Linked DNA regions of Homo sapiens: all the other regions are linked to region 3. Evidence: fine-mapped expression QTL. A gene starts in region 3. Each other region holds a variant in brackets. All regions are shown on one strand. Distances are from middle to middle. Region 1 overlaps CACTIN (cactin, spliceosome C complex subunit). Region 2 overlaps PIP5K1C (phosphatidylinositol-4-phosphate 5-kinase type 1 gamma). Region 3 holds the start of PIP5K1C (phosphatidylinositol-4-phosphate 5-kinase type 1 gamma). Region 4 overlaps PIP5K1C (phosphatidylinositol-4-phosphate 5-kinase type 1 gamma).

Region 1 (5,336 bases), 82 kb after region 3:
CCGAAGCACTCAGACTCCCGGGTAAAGCGAGTCAGCAGGCCCCGAGCAAGGCTCTTCTGTTGGGGGCTGGGGTGGCCCCGAGCAAGGCCCTCCTGTTGGGAGTTGGGGCGGCCCCGAGTGAGGCCCTCCTGTTGAGAGTTGGGGTAGCCCCTTCTTACCCTTTGCATACATCTCACTCCCAGTGGGGGCTCCATGTCTGCACTGAATTGGATGCACTGGGTTTCAGGAGTGTTAAGGAGGGGGTGGAAGACGTGCAGTGCTGGCAGGTCACCTCTCTCTGCAAAACAAGGGCCCTGGTCAATCTCTTGGACGAAGGAGCTGAGGAGGGGGGCGAGGGGGCGGGTCTGTGCTCAGGGCAGGTGTGCCTGGTGCTTCCAGGCCCTGGAGAAGAAGGGGATCAGCCACCTGGAGGAGAAGGAGCTGAAGGAGCGGAACAAGAGGATCCAGGAGGACAACCGGCTGGAGCTGCAGAAGGTAGGCACCCTGCCAGCCCACTGGGCAGGGCCCTCCCTTTCCAGGGCCTGGAGGCCCGCCCCCTTTGGCAGGACTTGAGGGGCTTAAGTGGGAAGTCCTGGGGGCTGGCTTCAGGTAAGGCTGGATCCAGGGGCTCAGACCATGGCCCCAGGAAACTGTTTCCCTCCACCTCTCGGCTCTGCTGGCCTCGGGCCTTCACTCCCACATGCTCCCTTCAGGGTGGCCGAGAGGGCCCCAGCTGATCTGAGCTGCTGAGTCTCGGGCAGGAGGGCCCTCTCCCTTCCCAAGGTCTGTCCACCAGCCCAGGCATCTCCGGACCAATCCCTGTGCCCAGGGCAGCTGGGTGAAGGCTGGGCCCCCATCATCACAGCCCCTCCCCCCGCAGCCCTGCAGACCGCACGGTCCCCGCTGCCCTCAGCCTCCTGTGCCTGCAGGTGAAGCAGCTGCGGCTGGAGCGGGAGCGGGAGAAGGCCATGCGCGAGCAGGAGCTGGAGATGCTGCAGCGCGAGAAGGAGGCAGAGCACTTCAAGACATGGGAGGAGCAGGAGGACAACTTCCACCTCCAGCAGGCCAAGCTGCGGTGCGCTGGGGCCTCCCCCTCCCTCCGACCCAGACTTGGAGCCAGGGCCGGGCACTGGCTGTCACTCTGGAAGCCACTGCTCTCCCACCCTTCAGGGTCCCACACGGCACTTCCTGGGACCTTCCCTTCCTGACCCCTTCCCGGGCGGCAAGGCTTCTGTCTCCTGCCCTCCCCTGCTGGGCAGGGTGCAGAGGAGACGGGCCCAGGTGAACGGCACCCCACGCATGCTGGACGCCAGTCCTGCACTGACTGCAGTTGTCCCTCCCACACTCCACCCAGGAGGGTGGCACCCCCATCCGCCTGGTTTACAGACAAGCTGAGGCTCCGGGGTGTCCCTGCTTGCCTTGGGCCCCGTGGCGGGTGACATCAGGCTCCTCCCAGCTCGGGCCTCCCTGGTGACGGGTTCCCTTGGGTTGGACCAGGGCCCGCCTGCAACGCGTACCCCCCTGCAGGCCCAGAACAGAAACCCGGCTCTCTGCCCCGAGTGGTCTGCCTGGGGGAGGAGGTGGTTGCAAGGCAGTGACTACTCTGGTCCCCCAGCCTGCCTCTGCTTCAGCTCCTCCACTCTTCCCCATCACAGCCCACATAGAAGCCGCCATCCTGGGCACATCCCAGAGGCCCTCCAGGAAGCCCCTCCCACCTGGCCCACCTCCGGGTCCACGCTGCTTGCACTTTGTCTGCACTGCTGGCCTGCGCCCTTTGGCTGACCCGGCTCACTCTACCTTATGCCTCCTCCTCCTCCTCCTCCAGGAAGCCTTCCCTGACCACCCCCAACGGGTCAGGCCCCTCCTCGGCTCCCACTGGTGTGGTCACCCCAAGGGCAGGGTCTTTAGCATGGAGGGCACAGCCCAGGCTCTGATGCCACCTTCCCCTGCTCCCCACAGTTCCAAGATCCGCATCCGGGACGGGCGGGCCAAGCCCATCGACCTGCTGGCCAAGTACATCAGCGCTGAGGATGACGATCTGGCCGTGGAGATGCATGAGCCCTACACGTTCCTCAACGGCCTCACCGTGGCCGACATGGAGGACCTGCTGGAGGATATCCAGGTACCCAGCCCCACCCGATGCTCCTCTGACCTGCACCCTCACCCCCACCCCAGCCACACCCGTGTCCTGACCCCTGCCCCCTGCCCCCAGGTCTACATGGAGCTGGAGCAGGGCAAGAACGCCGACTTCTGGCGGGACATGACCACCATCACCGAGGACGAGATCTCCAAGCTCCGCAAGCTGGAGGCCTCGGGCAAGGGGCCAGGTAACGGCGGGCATGGGCCTGGGCTCCAGGGGAGCTGCGGGGGCTACAGTGTTCACCCAGAAGCCTCAGACTTGCTGTGGGGCCTGGTGCTCTCTGCAGGCCTCGGTTTCCCCAACTGGGGCCTCCCCTTCTGGGCCGAGCCACCAGGGGGCAGCAGCGGGCAGTAGGCCCTGGGAGGGATGAGTGGGGCGGGCCTCTGTCTGGGGTGCAGGGCCAGCAGCGTCCAGACCCAGCGTCCCGTTAACGCTGACTCGGC[G/A]GTGCCGGCCTTATGGGAGCCACGGGGCTTTCCGCTCAGGTTTCAGTGCTCTCAGTGGCTCTGCCTGTTTGACAGCAAGTCTCGCTCCACCTGGCCTGAAGGCCGTGCAGCCCAGCTTCAGGGCGCTACCTGTCCCGTGCGTCAGTTCGTGCCCCTCCAACCTGATGGGCTTTTAAAATCACGTTTCCCCCCCCTCCGTGTGGTTGCACACACATGGTCACCGGGGATGCTCTAAAGCGTCTACCCTGAGCACTGCGGACATGCGGGCTGGGCCGTTCCCTAGGGTGGGGCCGTCCTGGACACTGCTGGGTGCTGAGCAACGTCCCTGGCCTCCACCCAGGGTCAGGAGCACCCCTAGTCCTGACAACCGCAGATGTCCCCAGACGTTGCCCAGAGTCCCCTGGGGGCAGAATTGCCCTAGATGAGACCCCCCCCCCCCCCGGTCTAAAAGCCAACCACAGCAGCCCTGCCCCCTCCCCGCCAAAATCCACGCCCCAGCGGCTGCTGTAACAGTGCCTGGCTCTCATGGGCCACGCATCCCTGTCGATAGACCCGGTCCTTCCCCTGCCCTCCCTCTCAGGCCTTGGGTGCCATCATGGTGGCCGAGGATCCCAGGAGGCTGGGTCAGTGTCATTTGCAGCCCTCAGCGTGGTCTGTGGCAGGTCCTTCCTAGGAAAGAGCCTGTGGCTTTCCTCTTTTTCAGTGGAGCTTTGTGTTCCCCGGAGGTGGAGTTCACTCAGCCATCCTGTCCCTCCAGTGGTCTCCTCCGTGGGGCACATTCTCCCGTAACCTCAGAGAGGCAGGGCAGTTCTCCAGCATCAGAGGTGTGTCCGTTAAGGGTCTTGGTGTGCTCCTGCTGGTGGCAGCGGGGCTGGGCAAAGACTTCTGGGTGCAGTACATTTTCCTTCAGAAGCCGCAGACCCTACCCACCGGCTGCAGGAAGCCTGGGAGGCGTTTCCAGCGTTGCCCTAGGCCCCGCCCTCTCCTGTAAGACTGGGAGGCGTTTCCAGCGTTGCCCTGGGCCCGGCCTCTCCTATAAGCCTGGGAGGCGTTTCCAGCGTGCCCCACTGCCCTAGGCCCCGGCCTCTCCCATCCCTTCCATGGCCTTCTGCCTCCACCACGTCGCTCAGCCCTCCTTTCCCCTCACGCGTTACAGTTGGGGACCCCAGGTGGCTTTGGTGTCTTCCGAGGGAGTTTGTTTCTGATTCTCCTTTCAACATGGTTTCCAGGAGTAGGGAACCGAGGGGTCTTGACTTTGCTGTCCCCCTGGAGACCCACAGAGCCCCTGTCCTGGATCTTCTTAAATTAATTGGGGTTTTCCTTTTACTTTTCATTTTTCAGAGACAAGGTCTCGCTCTGTCGCCCAGGCGAGAGTTGAGTGGCGCGATCAAGGCTCACTGTAGCCTCGACTTCCTGGGTTCAGGTGATCCTCCCACCTCAGCCTCCCTAGAAGCTGGGACTACAGGCGCTCACCATCACACCCAGCTATTTTATTTTTTGAGAAGGAGTCTCACTCTGTCACCAGGCTGGAGTGCAGTGGTGCGATCTCTGCTCACTGTGACCTCTGCCTCCCAGATTCAAGCGATTCTCCTGCCTCAGCTGCCCAAGTAGCTGGGATTACAGACGCGCGCCATCACGCCCAGCTAATTTTTGTATTTTTAAGGAGACAGGGTTTCACCATGTTGGCCAGGATGGTCTCAATCTCTTGACCTCATGATCCTCCCACCTCAGCCTCCCAAAGTGCTGGGATTACAGAAGTGAGCCACTGTGCCCAGCCACTTCTGAAAATTTTTTGTAGAGATGGGGTCTCACTGTGTTGCCCAGGCTAGTCTTGAACTCCTGGCCTCAAGCAATCCTCCTGCCTCACCTCCAGAAGGGCTAGGATTAAAGGCATGAGTGACTGCATGCTTTTTCTTTTTAATTTTTACAAAATTAAAGTTTTTTTATTATTTCTGTAGGTTATTGGGGAACAGGTGGTGTTTGGTTACATGAATAAGTTTTTTTGTTTTTTGAGACGGTGTCTTGCTCTCTTGCCAGGCTGGAGTGCAGTGGTGTGTTCTCAGGTCACTGCAACCTCTGCCTCCTGGGTTCAAGCAATTCCCCTGCCTCAGCCTCCCAAGTAGCTGGGATTACAGGCACCTACCACCACACCTGGCTAATTTTTTGTATTTTAGTAGAGACAGGGTTTCACGATGTTGGCCAAGATGGTCTTGATCTCCTGACCTCGTGATCCACCCACCTCAGCCTCCAAAAGTGCTGGGATTACAGGCGTGAGCCATCGTGCCCGGCCGTTTACATGAATAAGTTCTTTAGTGGTGACTTGTGAGATTTTGGTGCACCTAGCTTTTTCTAGGAAGTTCTAACCCTACAGGAGGTTGTGCAGTAGAAAACGGGTGTCATCCCAGCTCAGCTTCATTAGCCTCCCACCCTGTGTAGGGCCTGGCCTTTCCCCCACGCAGCCCCAGGGCCCTTGGCCTGCACCCCCAGCCTCTAGCAGCTGCTGGGACCCCCTAAACCCCCGGGCCCCCTTGTGGGCATTCGGGAGGCATCCAGACATGCAGCAGCATGTCCAGACCCGGCTTTCTATAGACGCTGACCTGGCGGCACCTGGCCTGGCTTCCTGGGAGCCTCGCGGCTGGGCTCTTCTGCTTGGGTTTCAGTGTTCGTGGTAGCCCCGCCTGTCTGGGCACGGCCGCGCTGTGCTTGGCTGGGGCTGCCACGGATTCCAGTGCCACTTAGCGCCCAGCAAAGGGGCTGCAGCTCTGGGTGCCGAT
Region 2 (5,336 bases), 68 kb after region 3:
CACCCTCCTCCCTGCGGGCCAGTTCTTTCAGGGCTCAGGTGGGGACCCTGTTTTGGCCCCACATTTTCAAGTCCCCATGGGATCCATCAGTGCAGCCACCAAATCAGTACTGAGCACCCACATAGGCTCCCCATGCCGGGCTCTCAAGGGACGTTGGGTGGACCTGACCTGCCATTCCCACGTCAGGGATTCCAGGCTGCATTTGCTACCCTGGAGGAACAGGCAAGGCCTGCGCTGGGGTCCTGGCCCCTCAGTGCAGGAGTCAGTCCTCCGCGATGCGGCCTCGCAGGGCAGGAGTGCGCTGCCCTCGGTGCCCAGGGCCCGGGAACAGGGGTCTTGTGGAAGCTGTAGGATCGGGCAGGGTGGAGTGAGCACAGAGGTGGGCCCTTTAGAGGGAGCATGGAGGCAGAGCCCGAGGCAGGGAGAGGCAGTGCTCCTGCAGGTGAGGTCTGGGCTCACCTGGAGCACAAGGGAGGCCCCTGCTGGCCCAGGCTGGGCAACTGGGAGCTGGCAGAGGCATGGGTTGGCCTGGGCAGCAGGTGGGCAGCGTCATCCTGACTGGAAGGACGAGCAGTGGGTCTTGGGGTGATGGACTGGGTTGTGACTGTGGCGAGTTTAGGGGCCGAGGGCCGCCAGGTGGACGTGGCCAGGCAGGTGTGTATTCAGGCCTGGCACTTCAGGCCGAGGCCAGGCCTGGTGGAAATTCGCAGGTCATCTGTGCCGGGAGGGGCGTTGAAGGCTGGGTTGGTGACAGAGGCCCGAGAGAGAGGAGGACACAACAAGGAAGACAGGGCGGCCAGGCTGGAGCCCTGAGAAAGCAGAGCAGCCTAGGGGCAGGAGAAGCAGGGGGAGCTTGAGGGGGTGGGGGCTCCTCAGGAGGCGGGACGGAGGTGTTGGAGGAACGCACCCTCCCTCCCTCCCCAGATCCCACCCAGACCTGGGACCCCTCACGCAGGCACAGCTGGGAAGAGCTGTCCGTGTCCCTGCACACGGCCCTGCCTGTGCCTAGCCCTGAACTTGGCCCTCACTCTGCCCTGCTGCTCAGGAAGGCGTCTCCTGGCTCTTGCAGGGTGGGTGGTCCGAGCCTCAGTCTCTCCTAGCACGTCTGTGCTGGCAGAGGGGACTGGCCCTGCCCGCAGGCAGCCATATATTCAGGTCCCAAAAGGCTTCTGGGTTGGGAAGTAGGTCCGGCACCCCGACCTCCCAGGACCCCCATAGAGAGCTTCCAGGAGCCTGTGCGCTGGTGCCCGTGGCACAGGCAGGATTGGGGGCTGTGGTGGGGCCGGGCTGTGGAGGAGGAGGAGGAGGAGGAACACTCGGTGCTCCAGGTCGCGACCCCCACCCGCTTCCGCCGGCTCTGTCACCTGCTATCTCAGGCCCTGCCTCGACTGAACTAACTGCTTTCTGCCGCCCGCCGTGCCCCGCCCCGCCAAGCTGAGCTGAGGCCCCAGGCCCGTCCAGGTTGGGAGCAAGTCCACCGGGTCAGAGAGGGCAGCTGGGCTGAGCCACCCCTCGTCTTCCATGGGGGATTCGCCTCTTTTATGTTCTCCTGTCTCTTCCTTCCTCCCTCTGCCTCTCTTGCACCTCCTCGCACCCTGCTCTTCCGCGCCCTCCTGCACGCGCGCCCACCTGCCAGCCCACCGATGAGAGGAGCTGGGTGTACTCCCCGCTCCACTATAGCGCCCAGGCCCCCCCGGCCTCCGACGGCGAGAGCGACACAGTAAGTGCAGCCCAGGTGCACCCGCCGGTCCCGTGGGCTCCAAGGTTCTACTGAGCGTGGTCCCCAGCTACTGGGATAGGCAGGGACTGAGGCCCGGGGCGGGAGGGCACAGGTGGCCCAGAGCTCCACCCTGGGCTCTCTGGCTCTGAGGTGGCCGTGGGCTAAGTGTCTCAGGGCCTGTGTTGGCCCAAGGAAGCCAGTCCCTGGCAGGGGGCCTGGGGTGGGCCCTCGCCCCGCCCACCTTCACCTGTCCTCTTGCTCTTGCAGTAATTTCTATGCAGCCCCCGACCCAGAGCCGAGCTCCACTTCTGCTCCGGCT[G/T]CCCCCGAAGGCGCTGCCCACCCCGCTGAGGCCCAGAGCTCGGGAGATGCCCGCCTCGCCGCCCCACCGGACCTCGTCCTCCCCCTGCACGGATGCCGACGGCCGGGCCCCTCCCCGACAAGCCTCCCAGGGCCCCGGCACCCCGGTCGGCAGCCTGCCCCTGTGAGACCCACCCTCCCGAGCGGCCAATCGCATTTGAGTCCTTATTTGGCACAGAGACGGAAGCACGTGTGTGCCGTTTTAGGAAAAGAACAAAAAAGACACAAACAAACCAACCAGAGGGAGAAGAGCCCCTGCCCACTGCACTCTTTGGTTCTCTGCTGTGCCTGCCTGTGTCCTGAGGAAGAAGCCAGGCTGTTCGCGGTGGCCTCTGGGGACCTGAGCCCCGGGGGCCCCATCGGCCTGCAGAGGGGACGGCTGGGGTCCCGAGCAACTCTGCCTCCATCCACGTGGGAAGCGGACCCTCCTGCCCTCAGCTTGGGTTTGGGGGCCTCAGTGCAGGACATCTGGCCTGAACATCGACTGTGGGGACAGCCCTCGCCCTGCCAAGCACTGCGGCCACTCAGCAGCTATGTTCCCGCCGCAGTGGGGCCCTGACGCCCACCTCCCAGGTGCCCCTCGAGCAAAAACCTCTGGCGCCTCCAATCCAGACCCACCACAGCTGGAGGGCCAGGCCTCCTCTTCCCCAGGCTGCCACCCACGCTGGCGGAGCTCAGGGCTGGGGACTTGTCCTTCTCTTCCAACGTAGGCCACTCAGCAACTGGCATGGAGGGCCCAGGCAACGGAGACGTTTTCTCCATGGCAGGACAGAGCGGGAGGCCGGGCCTTGGGCCACAGGAGACCAGCTCAGGGCGGAAGGTCAGGCTCCCCGCCCCCTCCACGTGGAGACATGGCCTAGGGGGCCAGGCCCGGCTCCACAGGAGTCTCCTTCAGGACTGGTGTGGATGTCCGCCGCCTCTTTCTTGTTTAAGTGATGTGATGTCTCCGAGGAGGGGAGAGAAGACTTTGTTTCCGACTCATCACCCTCCAAGAGGGCAGCGCTCCCAGTGGTGGGACTCAGCCCAGACTGCCCTGGGGCAGCTTCCTGGGCCCGCTGCGCTCAGAGGGTGCTGGTTGGAGGCCAGAGCTCGGCAGAGTCACCCACCCTGCCCTTCCCCAGGACCCCTGAGAGGGGCTTATTGGTGATGGCTGTGGGAATCCCCCACTTCCAAGATGTGCCCAGGATGTGAGGAGCTGGAGTGGAAGCTGCACCTTTGGGAAGAATTCCTCTCCAGACCTGGCAGAGCCTGGTGTGGGGTCTGAGACGGCCGGAGAACCTCCCAGGCAGGGCTCTGTGTTTTGTCTGTTACAACCTCCGTATGACGCCACGCCACCCGCTGTTCACGTCCCGTCGGCCTCCTGCACAGCCCACACGCTGCGCCCGGAAGGCCCCTGCTGTGGAGAAGCCGGACCCATCCCCGAGGTCCCCAGCGAGGACACACACTCCACGAGAGCAGCCCCTCCACTCTGCCCAGGAGAGGGGCCGACCCTCCTCGGGAACCGGCCAGCCGCGTGGCTCCCAGCATCCATCAGGACAAGCCCACGTGGGGTCCTCCCTGCGTGCTCAGAGGGTCTGTCCAGCCCTGGGAAGCGACCTTGGCCTCAGTTCACAGCCTGGTGCTCATCTGCTGGCACCGGGCATCCACCCATCAGCCCCCGCCCTGTCCCTCCGAAGGACACCCAGCAGGCACCCCCCGGGGAGGCAGGGGCAGAGGTCAGAAGGGGTGTCTGGGACCTGGATGGCCAGCAGGGACAGGGGCATTGTCATCTCAAAGGCCCAACCCCCAGAGGCCACACCAGTCCTCCCAGGGAGTCCTCGAGTCGCCCTGCCCAGAGCCCTGGCACCAGAGACGCCAAGAGCCTGTGGGGTGACTCGGAGCAGCAGGTGTGGCCCCGGGCGGGCGGCACCGCGTCCAGGGCAGCCTCCCTCCGCTGAGTGACACGGGACACCAGTGCCCGGCCGACGCGCCTTTGCAGGAGAAATGTGCAAACCTCTGTGGATACCATTTCATTTCCATTCTTGTGTTGTCTCCAAGGCCCTTTTGGAGATATACTTGGTGTTGGTTGTGTTTTTTGGTTCCTTTTCAGAGAACTGTAAACCGAGGCTGACGTGCTCCACTGACTGTGCCGAGGGGCGGGGGCAGGAGGACGGCAAGACCTATTTATAATATTTAGCGAACTCGGTCTCCCTCAGATCCCCCGCGAGGGAGGCTGCTGGACCCACCCCGCTGTCCCCCATGATAGAAGTCTGTAAATACCTTGGTGACCAATGCCCACTTCCCCTCCTGGGTCACCTCTGATGGCTGCTGTCCACTGAGAACGTGGGCAGTGTCCAAATTCCTGTACTGTAAAGACTAAAAGGCGTTTGCTCTGAGACTGACAAGGCGGAAACTTCCATGTGTCTCCTGCCAGGCTCTGTCCCCCTACGCCATCCCGACACGTCCCCGTTCCCCCGAAACCTGGCTCAGTGCAATACTCCCATTGCCATGGGGTCCTTCACCATGGTACTGTCTCCACAGCCCTCAGTCCCCACCCCAGGAGAGGCGCCTGCCACCTCCTCCTCATCTCCGGTGGTTCAATCGCTCCGCCTGTCCCCAACCCAGTCCCATTTTTATGGCCAAACTGATTCTGAAACAAAATGAAACTGCAAACCTCGTGTGTCTTAACTCCCCCCAGGGATGCCACTCCATTCCTCCGCCCCGTGGTCTGGTGCGTGACAATCCAAAGCGCCGAGACGAGGGTGCTGTGTCCCTCAAACCCAGAGTGGTGGGCGCCTCTGAAACCATACAGCCACTCCTGGCCCCAAACACTGGTTTGCATCCCAGGTTCCTCGCCCACCTACCCCCGCCACACCCCGTCTTTTTAGAGATCTCTCTAATAAATCGGGTAATAAGCATCCGCCTGTTTGCCTTTCTGTGGGTTCCGGAGGTCTGGTTGGGAGTCTGAGGAGTGACTTTGTTCTGTGTTTTTTGTTTTCTGTTTTTGTTTGTTTGTTTGTTTTCTTTTTAAGAGATGGAGTCTCGCTCTCCACCCAGGCTGGAGTGCAGTGGCGCAATCTCAGCTCACTGCAAGCTCCGTCTCCTGGGTTCACACCATTCTCCTGCCTCAGCCTCCTGAGTAGCTGGGACTACAGGCGCCCGCCACCACGCCCAGCTAATTTTTTATTTTTAGTAGAGGCAGGGTTTCACCATGTTAGCCAGGATGGTCTCGATCTCCTGACCTCGTGATCCGCCCACCTCGGCCTCCCAAAGTGCTGGG
Region 3 (5,336 bases):
TAGAGACGGGGTTTCTCCATGTTAGTCAGGCTGGTCTTGAACTCCCGACCTCAGGTAATCCGCCCACCTCGGCCTCCCAAAGTGCTGGGATTGCAGGTGTGAGCCCCCGCGCCCGGCCCATTTTCACCATGTCTAAGAGCACAGCTCCGTGGCCTTAAGCACATTCCCATGGCTGTGCAAACATCACCGCCATCATCTCCAGAATGTTCTCATCTTCTGAGACTGGAAGTCTGCCCCTGTGAAACACTCACTCCTCGTCTCCCCCCAAGCCCCTGGCACCCCCCATCCTACTTTCTGTCTCTGTGAATGTGACAACTCTAGGGACCTCCTAGGAGTGGAACCACACAGAATTTGTCTTTTTGTTTTTTTTGTTTGTTTTTTTTTTTTGCGGGGACAGACGGGGTCTTTCTCTGTTGCCCAGGCCAGAGTGCAGTGGTGCGATCATAGCTCACTGCAGCCTTGAGTTCCCGGGCTCAAGCAGTCCTCCCACCTTAGCCTACTAAGTAGCTGGCTAATTAAAAAACAATTTTTTTTGTAAAGATGAGGGGTCTCACTACACCTAGCTAATTAAAAAAATTTTTTTTGTAGAGATGAGAGGGCTCACTATGTTACCCAGGCTGGTCTAGAACTCCTGAGCTCAAGTAATCCTCCTGCCTTGGCCTCCCAAAGTGCTGGAATTACAGGCGGGAGCCTCTGTGCCCACCCCAAACATTATTTATGTGCATAGGTAATATAATCATTATGATTTACATTTATGTAAATAATATAAACGTTATTACTTAAATTAACATAAACAACATAAGCCTTATTATGTGCTTATATAAAGAACATAAATATGGCCGGGCGCAGTGGCTCACACCTGTAATCCCAGCACTTTGGGAAGCTGAGGCGGGAAGATCACGAGGTCAGGCGTTCAAGACCAGCCTGGCCAACATGGCGAAACCTCATCTCTACTAAAAATACAAAAATTAGCCGGGCGTGGTGGCACGTACCTGTAGTCCTAGTTACTTGGGAGGGTGAGGCAGGAGAATCACTTGAACCCTGGAGGCAGAGGTTGCAGTGAGCTCAGATCGCCCCCCTGCACTCCAGCCTGGGCAACAACAGCAAGACTCCATCTCAAAAAAAAAAAAGAAGGATATAAATATTGCTACTTACATTTGCATAAATATATATAATTTATTATGTATTTCTATAATTATATGTTTCTTATAATAGCAAACTGTATTATTATTGATAAAATAATATAAAGAAAACAATAACATATCTATACTTACGTAATACAAACGATGGAATATAAATATTATTTGCAATATGATAATAAACAGGTAGTTAATTGCAAATGTTATTGATATGTATTGCGTAGATCAATGTTAATAACATGTATTGTGTAGATCTATATATATATATATTTTTTTTTGATATGGAGTCTCGCTCTGTTGCCCAGGCTGGAGTGCAGTGACACGATCTCAGCTCACTGCAAGCTCTGCCTCCCAGGTTCACCCTATTCTCCTGCCTTAGCCTCCCAAGTAGCTGGGACTACAGGCGCCCGCCACCACGCCTGGCTAATTTTTTGTATTTTTAGTAGAGACGGGGTTTCACCATGTTAACCAGGATGGTCTCAATCTCCTGACCTCGTGATCCGCCCGCCTCGGCCTCCCAAAGTCTTGGGATTACAGGCATGAGCCACCGCGCCCGGCCCTGTGTAGATCAATATTATTTACATGTACTGTGTATATCACTGTTATTGGTATATTTTGTGCATATCAATGTTATTGACATGTAGTGTGTATATCAATGTTATTGACATGTAGTGTGTACATTAATGTTATTGGCATGTAGTGTGTATATCAATGTTATTGGCATGTAGTGTGTATATCCATGTTATTGGCATGTAGTGTGTATATCAATGTTATTGACATGTAGTGTGTGTATCAATGTTAGTTACATGTATTGTGTAGATCAATGTTATTGGTATTCATTGTGTATAGCAATGTGATTGGCATGTATTGCATATAGCAATGCTATTTGTATGTTTTATGTAGATCCATGTCAATGATATAGTATAGATTCATGTTATTGGCATGTATTGTGTATATCCATGTTATTGGCATGTATTGTGCATATCCGTGTTATTGGCATGTATTGTGTATATCCATGTTATTGGCATGCATTGGGTAACTCCATGTTATTGGCATGTGCTGTGTAGGTCCATGTGTGGTTTTTTTTGGGACAGAGTCTCACTCTGTGGCCCAGGCTGGAGGGCAATGGTGCGATCTCAGCTCACTGCAACCTCTCCCTCCTGGGTTCCAGCGATTCTCCTGCCTCAGCCTCCCGAGTAGCCGCGATTACAGGCATGTGCCACCACGCCCAGCTATTTTTTGTATTTTTAGTAGAGACAGGATTTCACCATGTTGGTCAGGATGGTCTTGAACTCCTGACCTCAGGTGATCCGCCCTCTTCGGCCTCCCAAAGTGCCGGGAATATAGGCGTGAGTCACCGCGCCCGGCCAGATCCATGTTATTGTCATGCGCTGTGCAGGTCCCTGTTATTGGCATGTGCTGTTTAGATCCATGTTATTGGCATGTGCTGTGTACATCCATATTATTGGCACGTGCTGTATAGATCCATATTATTGTCATGTGTTGTGTAGATCCATGTTATTGGTATGTGTTGTGCACAGCAATGTTATTGATACGTATCGTGCCTGTCAATCTTACTGACCTAATACGATGGAATGGCGAGCCTGGCTCTGTACTCCCACCCCTGGGCGCGAGGGGGCACTCGAGGCGCTCCTGGCTGCGGGTCGCAAGCAGGCCCCGCCCCCGAGCCCCGATTGGCCGCGCGCCGTCCGCGGCGTCGCACGCACGCAGGCCCCGCCCCGTCCGCCCCGCGCCGGCCCGGCGCGCCCTCCCTTGGCCGGCGGCGCTTGTTGTTCGGCGGCGGCGGTCGCAGCTCGGGTCCCCCTCGGGCGCCCCCGCCGCCGTCCGCGCGCGGCCATGGAGCTGGAGGTACCGGACGAGGCGGAGAGCGCTGAGGCGGGGGCCGTGCCCTCGGAGGCGGCGTGGGCGGCAGAGAGCGGGGCGGCGGCAGGTAACGGCCCGGCCTCCCGGGGCTGCGGCCCGCTGGGCTCGTCCGAGCGCCGAGAGTCGCGGGGCTGCGGGGCCGGGGCGGGGGCTGCACGGTCGCTGCGGGGGCGCCGCCGGTTCCAGGAGCCTGGGGCGGGGCAGTCCCCTGGAGCCGCGGGGAGGACGGGGCTGAAGCCGCGCCGGGAAGCGGGAGGCCTGCGAGGGGCTACCTCCCACCGCTCCCGGGCCGGGGGCGACTCGGCGTGGGCGCCGCTGGGGATCCCCGTTCTGCCTGACCCGCTCCCAGGGGCTGCCCGTCGTGTGAGTGGCGGCTGCTTGGGTGGAGGCGGGGGTCTCTGAGGCCGTGCGTGCCCACCTCCTGATGTCACCTCCCTTTCTGTAAGTCCCCAGACCTGAGTCCGGGTGCGCGACCTTTCCTCACCTTCCTGGGCCTCAGTTTACCTCCCTGCTAAAATGAGGGGAGGAAAAGGGTTACATCTCAAGATGCCTCCACCGCCCCGGCTGTGCACACAGGGTGCCCTGTCGCCCCCTTTTCCTCTCCCCGAGCCTTCCCCCAGGACACACTGGTGGGGCTGCGGGCTGGGCGGGGGGCACGGCTGTCTCATGCCCCCTTTAGCTGCTTCCTGGACCTCCAGCCGGGTAGGTGGCGGCAGCTGGGCCTTCCCTTCTGTGGGGACGGTGTGCAGAGCCCAGAGGAAGGGAACAGTTCCTTCTCAGTCGAGGTCACAAGCTCCCAAATCGGAAGTTTCCGGATTCACAAAATCCTCTGCTCCTCCCAGGCAGCCAGCAGCAGCGTCTCTGTAGACACCCACACGGGCATCCGTCCTCCTTCTCCCCCCAGGCCTCCCGAAGCTTCCTTGGTTGGCAGGCGGGCAAGCGGGCGGGCGGGCGATGCGTGCTGCCTGGGAGTTGGGGAGATGTCTGGAGAGAGAGAGAGTGTGGAAGTCATCAAGTCCCCCCCCCACCCCCCGCCTTGAAAGACACTCGTGGCTTCCCTCCCGGCGGCCATCTGGAACCGCTTGGTAGGTGACCCGGTTCCTTCCCCAGAGCCAGTGGCCTCGCCCCTTTCTTTGCGGGCAGCCGGTGTCCTGGCCTGGCCAGCAAGAGACATGGTGGAGGAACCCAGGCAGGGCACCAGGCCCCAGCCCGGGTTCCTTTCTTGGGCCCCCCAACTTCCGCTGTCAGCCCTCTGACCCCAGCTGGTCAGAGACAAAGTAGCCCAGGACTCGCTGACCAAAAGAAAACCACACCGCGACCATTCATCTTATCAGGGGCTCTGGGAGCACCGGGGACAGATAAAGTTGCCAGCTCCAGACTGAGCATGGTGGTGGGGTGGGAGAGCGGGGGAGTGGGGGGGTGGGGGTGGGGGGCCGGGGAGGGCTGGAAGGTCAGGGTCTGGCATCTCTGCCCATCCCTGAAATCCACAGAAATCTGACCCCAGCTGGCCATATACTGCTTCTGAATGTTTAAAATTCAGAGTTGCCTCACTCCTCCAACGCCATCCCTCCTGATGTTAGCGCTGGTGAGTTTAGGTTGTGCCTGGCTGGGCCACAGAGACGTGAGCACATAAAGGGGCCTGCTTGTTCTTCACCGAGATGGTTTCATGCCTCACTGGGGCTTCTGTGCCTTGGCAGAGGTATTTTGAGTCAGGAAATTAGGGGTGCTGAGCAACGCCCCTGGCTTCTGCCCACTCCATGCCAGGAGCACCTGCCAGTTGTGACAGCCACAAGTGACCCAGACACCGTTCAGTGTCCCCTGGGGGCAGGACGGCCCTGGTGAGAAATGCCACACGTTTATGACTCTGTGAACTGCTTGCTTTTTATCTCTGGTCATCTGGAGTCTCCCCACCCTATGTTGGTATCGGTTTGTAGAGAGGGCGAGCGCCAGGCAGTGGTTAAGGGGGAGCCCCAGAGTTGGTCCCGCCGATGTCCCCCTCCCAGCTCCGCGCTTCAGGTGCTGTGTGGCCGTCACTTCCCCGGGCTTCAGCGTCCCGTCTGTGAAGTGGGGTGATGACCGTGTGTGCTAGGGGCTGAGCCTGGGATGAGTTGGCGCTCGTGCTTGGTGATTGTCGTGCCGGTTGGCCACCCCTTTCCGGCCTCTCCACCATCGGTGCCTCCAGGCCCCTGCTGAGGCCCATGCCCGTGGTTTCTGGAGTCACCGCTCACTGTTAGAAGCGATGGCGACACCTTCCAGAAAGCTCAGCTACAGCGGGAGCCTTGTCCGACAGGGGCCGAGGGAGGCTGCCCGTTT
Region 4 (5,336 bases), 50 kb after region 3:
TTGTGAGACCCCATCTCACAAAGAAAACAAAACACTTATAACATGTCCCCAGACCCAGCCCTTGGGGGTCGGGAGTGTCTGCACTGCTGAGAAGTGGTTCCTCTGGAGGTTACACGATGACAGTGGTAGAGTCCCCCCACCCCCCAGAGAAGAGCCCAGCCTTCAGATGCTGTGGTCACAAGCCCAGAGCTCCCAGCCAGCCATGAGAGCTTGCTGTGCCTCAGTTTCCTCACCCATCAAATGGGATGACTGCTTGCTCTGCAGGCCACAGTGAGGGCCCATGTGCGTCCAGTGAGGGTCTGGCTCCTGTCCCCGTGGAGCCTGCGTTGGCTCCGTGTTAGCGAAAGAATGATATGCACGGCTCTTCCTCTGCCTGGGTTAGCTCCGTCGTCCCCGTCCCACCCCGGCAGCTTCGAGGCATGGAGCCAAGGAGGGGAGGCCCCAGCCTGTCAGGAGCAGAGCCTGGGACCTCCCAGCTCCCCAACTCCACCCAGGCCCCGCTGCTGACCATCCCCAGCTCCCCGACCCCTTTGAGAACTTGACCCATACCCCCAGAAAACCGCCCAGACCACTCAGGGGCCTTGAGGCTACCCTGGGCATCCACCCACCTGGGTGTCACCTGTCAGGCCGGGCACGTCCTTGCCCATGGGCCTGGGCTGGTCAGAGCATAGGCCCGGCTCCCTGTCTCTCAGGAAGGAGTAAAGCCAGGAAGGGAAGTCCCTGTCTCAGTGCCCGGGGCAGCCTGCTGTGAGGCTGGAAGCCCCCATTCTCTGGCCTGCTCTGATGCCGCTGTGTGACCGCAGCCCCTCTGTTCCTCAGGATAACACTAGAACCCCCACTCCTGCCTGGCCGTGGGACTCCATCTCTCACACCCGAGCCCACGGGGCCATCCGTGCTGGGAACCCCATAGGGTCCGGGAGCCGTTGTGGGGGATAGAGACGGCTGACGGCGTGGCGTGTTCCTGCCCGATCCCGCCAGGTCCTGGAAAGTTTCAAGATCATGGACTACAGCCTGCTGCTGGGCGTGCACAACATCGACCAGCACGAGCGCGAGCGGCAGGCGCAGGGCGCCCAGAGCACCTCAGATGAGAAGCGGCCTGTGGGCCAGAAGGCGCTCTACTCCACGGCCATGGAGTCCATCCAGGGTGGCGCCGCGCGCGGGGAGGCCATCGAATCGGATGACACGTAGGTGGGCGGGGGGCCGCCGGACCCGTCCCGCTTCCCTTCCCCACAGGCTCCAGTTCCCCATCCCCGTCCCAAGTGTGAAAACAGGCAGGGAGGGCTGGCGAGGGCATGCGTGGGTGACAGACAGAGTCTGGGAGCCTTGTGCCAGCGCCTCAGAGCGAAGCCAGGCCGTAGTGCGGGCCGCAGGCTGAGTGCAGGGTTCCGGGCCTTGGCTTGCAATGGTGGGGGCGTTTCCCATTCACCCGTGACTGGGCCGAGGCCACTGGCCATCCACAGGAATGAGAGAGAGATAGCGTTTCCCGGTGGCACTCAGAGGGGTCTACACGCCACCCGTGCAGAGAGGGGCCACAAAGGTGTGGAAGGCGCATGGGAGGCCAGAGGGATCGGGCGAGGCAGGGCTCACAGCAGGACACAGCCCACGAAGCAGAGGGACTGCAAAATCCGATTCCACACAGATCAAAGCAGCTGCTGGCTGGGCGCAGTGTCTCATGCCTGTACTCCCAGCACCTTGGGAGACCAAGGTGGGAGGATTGCCTCAGCCCCGGAGTTCAGTACCAGCCTGGGCAACATGGCAAGACCCCATCTCTACAAAAAATATAAAATGTAGCTGGACGTGGTGGCACGTGCACCTGTAGTCCCAACTACTTGGGAGGCTGAAGGCGTGGCAGGCGTGAGCGTGGCAGGCGGAGGTTGCAGTGAGCCAAGATCACACCACTGCACTCCAGCTTGGGCAACAGAGTGAGACCCTGTCTTAAAAAAAAAAAAAAAAACGCTGGGCGCGGTGGCTCACACCTGTAATCCCAGCACTTTGGGAGGCTGAGGCAGGTGGATCATCTGAGGTCAGGAGTTCCAGACCAGCCTGGCCAACATGGTGAAACCCCATCTCTGCTTAATACAAAATATTAGCTGGGCGTGGTGGTGCACGCCTGTAATCC[C/T]AGCTACTTGGGAGGCTGAGGCAGGAGAATCGCTTGAACCCAGGAGGTGGAGGTTGCAGTGAGCTGAGATTGAGCTATTGCACTCCAGCCTGGGCAACAAGAGCTAAACTCTGTCCAAAAAGAAAAAAAAAGTGGCTGCCACAGAAGATAGGAACGGTGGTGGAGAGAGGAGGCCACATCTCAGTGGCCTGCAGTCATGTCTGCTGGACACCAGGGGCAGAGGGACCAGGCAGGCCCTGCCCTCACAGGGCTCAGGGTTTGGCTGGGGAGATACTCACAGAGCTCTCCTGGGACACTGGATGTGAGGGCTGGGTCATTCTCTGGGGTGGGGCTGTCCTGGGCACTGCAGGGTGCTGAGCAGCGTCCCGGGCCTCCACCCACTCCGGGCCAGGAGCACCCCCCAGTTGTGACAACCACAGATGTCCCCAGACATGGCCCCGGATGCGGGATAGACAGGTGTCGTATAGCAGTGCTGAGATTGTGCCCTGGTCACAGCAGCACCCTGACAGTGGGGGCAGGCCCGAGCCTTCACTTTGGTACCTGTTCAGTCTTCACAGCGGCCTTGGAGGAGGGAGGTGGGCTTCCCCTGTTTCCAGCTGAGGAAATAGGCTCCTAGGTTGGGGGGCAGCCTTCCCCAGTGCAGCCACGAAGGTGTGGAGCCAAGTTCCACCTGGCCTGGCCCCAGGGACGGTGCTGGCTGGCACTGGCTGGCACTAGGCCACCAGCTGGGCTTTGGTTTGCAGCGGTGGTGGTATTTCCCATGGATGGCAGAGGAGGAGCCGGGGCCCCAACCAGGGTGTAGCTGCGGGGGGGTGCGGGAGCCAAGGCCAGGCACAGCTCCCCCTCAGACCATCCTGGCGTTTGTAGGGTCTTCGCTGGCCTGGCGGGGGAGCAGGTGAGCGTACCAGCCTGTGGCGTGAGCAGAGCGTGCAGGGCGCCAGCCCAGCGGGTCTGGGTCCCAGTGGCTTCAGGATGACTGCTGCACGTGTGGCCTCACTAACCGCGCTGGGCAGGGGACGTGTGGGCACGGTGCCGGGTGACAGTTAACTCCCGCGCTGGGCAGGGGACGTGTGGGCACGGTGCCGGGTGACAGTTAACTCCCGCGCTGGGCAGGGGACGTGTGGGCACGGTGCCGGGTGACAGTTAACTCCCGCGCTGGGCAGGGGACGTGTGGGCACGGTGCCGGGTGACAGTTAACTCCCGCGCTGGGCAGGGGACGTGTGGGCACGGTGCCGGGTGACAGTTAACTCCCGCGCTGGGCAGGGGACGTGTGGGCACGGTGCCGGGTGACAGTTAACTCCCGCGCTGGGCAGGGGACGTGTGGGCACGGTGCCGGGTGACAGTTAACTCCCGCGCTGGGCAGGGGACGTGTGGGCATGGTGCCGGGTGACAGTTAACTCCCGCGCTGGGCAGGGGACGTGTGGGCACGGTGCCGGGTGACAGTTAACTCCCGCGCTGGGCAGGGGACGTGTGGGCACGGTGCCGGGTGACAGTTAACTCCCGCGCTGGGCAGGGGACGTGTGGGCACGGTGCCGGGTGACAGTTAACTCCCGCGCTGGGCAGGGGACGTGTGGGCACGGTGCCGGGTGACAGTTAACTCCCGCGCTGGGCAGGGGACGTGTGGGCATGGTGCCGGGTGACAGTTAACTCCCGCGCTGGGCAGGGGACGTGTGGGCATGGTGCCGGGTGACAGTTAACTCCCGCGCTGGGCAGGGGACGTGTGGGCATGGTGCCGGGTGACAGTTAACTCCCGCGCTGGGCAGGGGACGTGTGGGCATGGTGCCGGGTGACAGTTAACTCCCGCGCTGGGCAGGGGACGTGTGGGCATGGTGCCGGGTGACAATTAACTCCCCAGTCTGTACCTGAGACCCCGTGGCCCTACCTGGGCATGCAGTGTGCGTGTGTGTGCATGTGTGTGTCCAGGCACACGTGTGTGTAGGGGGTATGTGCCCAGGCCTCCTAGCTGGGACTCCTCAGCAGTGCCTGGGCCTGGGTTTGAGGCTGGGGGTGATGGAGGGATGTCAGGACAGAGGTTCCCGGGTGCCAGGCCCCACTCCGAGAGCTTGGCCAAGTTGCCACCCACAGGAGCAGATGGACTCCCTAGCCCTGGAGTCCCCAGCCCCGCCTGCCCCGAGTCCCAGCTCTGCGGGATGCTGATGGTACCCTCGGCCTCTCTCCCCAGGATGGGCGGGATCCCCGCTGTGAACGGCCGCGGGGAGCGGCTGCTGCTGCACATTGGCATCATCGACATCCTGCAGTCCTACAGGTGGGTGCCCGGGTCTGCAGTCCTACAGGTGGACGCCCCGGGTCTGCAGTCCCACAGGTGGGCGCCCGGGTCTGCAGCCCCACAGGTGGGCGCCCGGGTCTGCAGCCCCACAGGTGGGCGCCTGGGTCTGCAGTCCCACAGGTGGATGGGCGCCCCCAGGACACCCATGCACAGAGGCGCTTGCCCGTGGAAACAGCCGCACCAGCAGCTCTCGGGGCTTCCTCAACCTGGAAAGCTCTTGCTTGGCTGCCCCTTCTTGAGCCCTAAAGGGAAGGTGTTTGGTCGCCTTGAAAATCTAGAGTGAGTTGGGCGTAGTGGTCCACACCTGTAATCTAGCACTGTGGGAGGCCGAGGCGGGAGGATTGCTTGAGCCCAGGAGTTTGAGACCAGCCTGGGCAACATAGCAAGACCCCATCTCTACAAAATATCAAAAAATTAGCTGAGCGTGGTGGTGCTCCTGCAGTCCCAGCTACTTGGGAGGCCGAGGCAGGAGGATTCCTTGGGCCCAGGAGTCTGGGGCTGCAGCAGTGAGCTATGATGGCCGTACTGCACCCCAGGCTGGGTGACAGAGCAAGACCCTGTCCCAAAAAAAAAGAAAAAAGAAAATCCAAGGAGTGGGTTTGAGGCCTCACTTTGGGGCTCGAATATTTGTTTTTTGGTTTTTCATTTGTTTGTTTTAAGACAAAGTCTCGCTCTGTCACTCAGGCCGAAGAGCATTGGTGCGATCTTGGCTCACTGCAACCTCTGCCTTCTGAGTCGACCCTATTCTCCTGCCCCAGCCTCCCCAGTAGCTGGGATTACTGGCACGCGCCAGCACGCCCGGCTAATTTTTGTATTTTTAGTAGAGATGGGGTTTCACCATGTTGGCCAGGCTGGTCTTGAACTCCTGATCTCAGGTGATCTGCCTGCCTTGGCCTCCCAAAGTGCTGGGATTACAGGTGTGAGCCACCG

The links. PIP is the estimated chance that this variant, and not a neighbour inherited with it, causes the effect.
Region 1: its variant is fine-mapped to the expression of PIP5K1C in whole blood (INTERVAL, PIP above 0.99).
Region 2: its variant is fine-mapped to the expression of PIP5K1C in whole blood (TOPMed, PIP above 0.99).
Region 4: its variant is fine-mapped to the expression of PIP5K1C in skeletal muscle (GTEx, PIP above 0.99).

What each region holds. Positions count from the first base shown.
Region 1 is chr19:3,615,845-3,621,180 of GRCh38, reverse strand. It overlaps CACTIN (cactin, spliceosome C complex subunit), which reads left to right. Exons shown (of 10, transcript NM_001080543.2): 3 at 379-474; 4 at 909-1,054; 5 at 1,939-2,101; 6 at 2,192-2,306. Among named protein-coding and RNA genes, the nearest start is that of CACTIN, 8.3 kb to the left of the region's middle. RefSeq lists an enhancer at 2,264-3,136. The variant G/A (reference allele first, on the strand shown) is at 2,563.
Region 2 is chr19:3,629,821-3,635,156 of GRCh38, reverse strand. PIP5K1C (phosphatidylinositol-4-phosphate 5-kinase type 1 gamma) reads left to right here. Exons shown (of 18, transcript NM_012398.3): 17 at 1,637-1,720; 18 at 1,988-4,974. The coding sequence ends at 1,990. Among named protein-coding and RNA genes, the nearest start is that of CACTIN, 5.7 kb to the right of the region's middle. The variant G/T (reference allele first, on the strand shown) is at 2,040.
Region 3 is chr19:3,698,051-3,703,386 of GRCh38, reverse strand. It overlaps PIP5K1C (phosphatidylinositol-4-phosphate 5-kinase type 1 gamma), which reads left to right and starts at 2,919. Exons shown (of 18, transcript NM_012398.3): 1 at 2,919-3,090. The coding sequence starts at 2,997. RefSeq lists silencers at 2,671-3,160, 3,241-3,380 and an enhancer at 3,079-3,862.
Region 4 is chr19:3,647,674-3,653,009 of GRCh38, reverse strand. PIP5K1C (phosphatidylinositol-4-phosphate 5-kinase type 1 gamma) reads left to right here. Exons shown (of 18, transcript NM_012398.3): 8 at 979-1,184; 9 at 4,302-4,385. Among named protein-coding and RNA genes, the nearest start is that of CACTIN, 24 kb to the right of the region's middle. The variant C/T (reference allele first, on the strand shown) is at 2,120.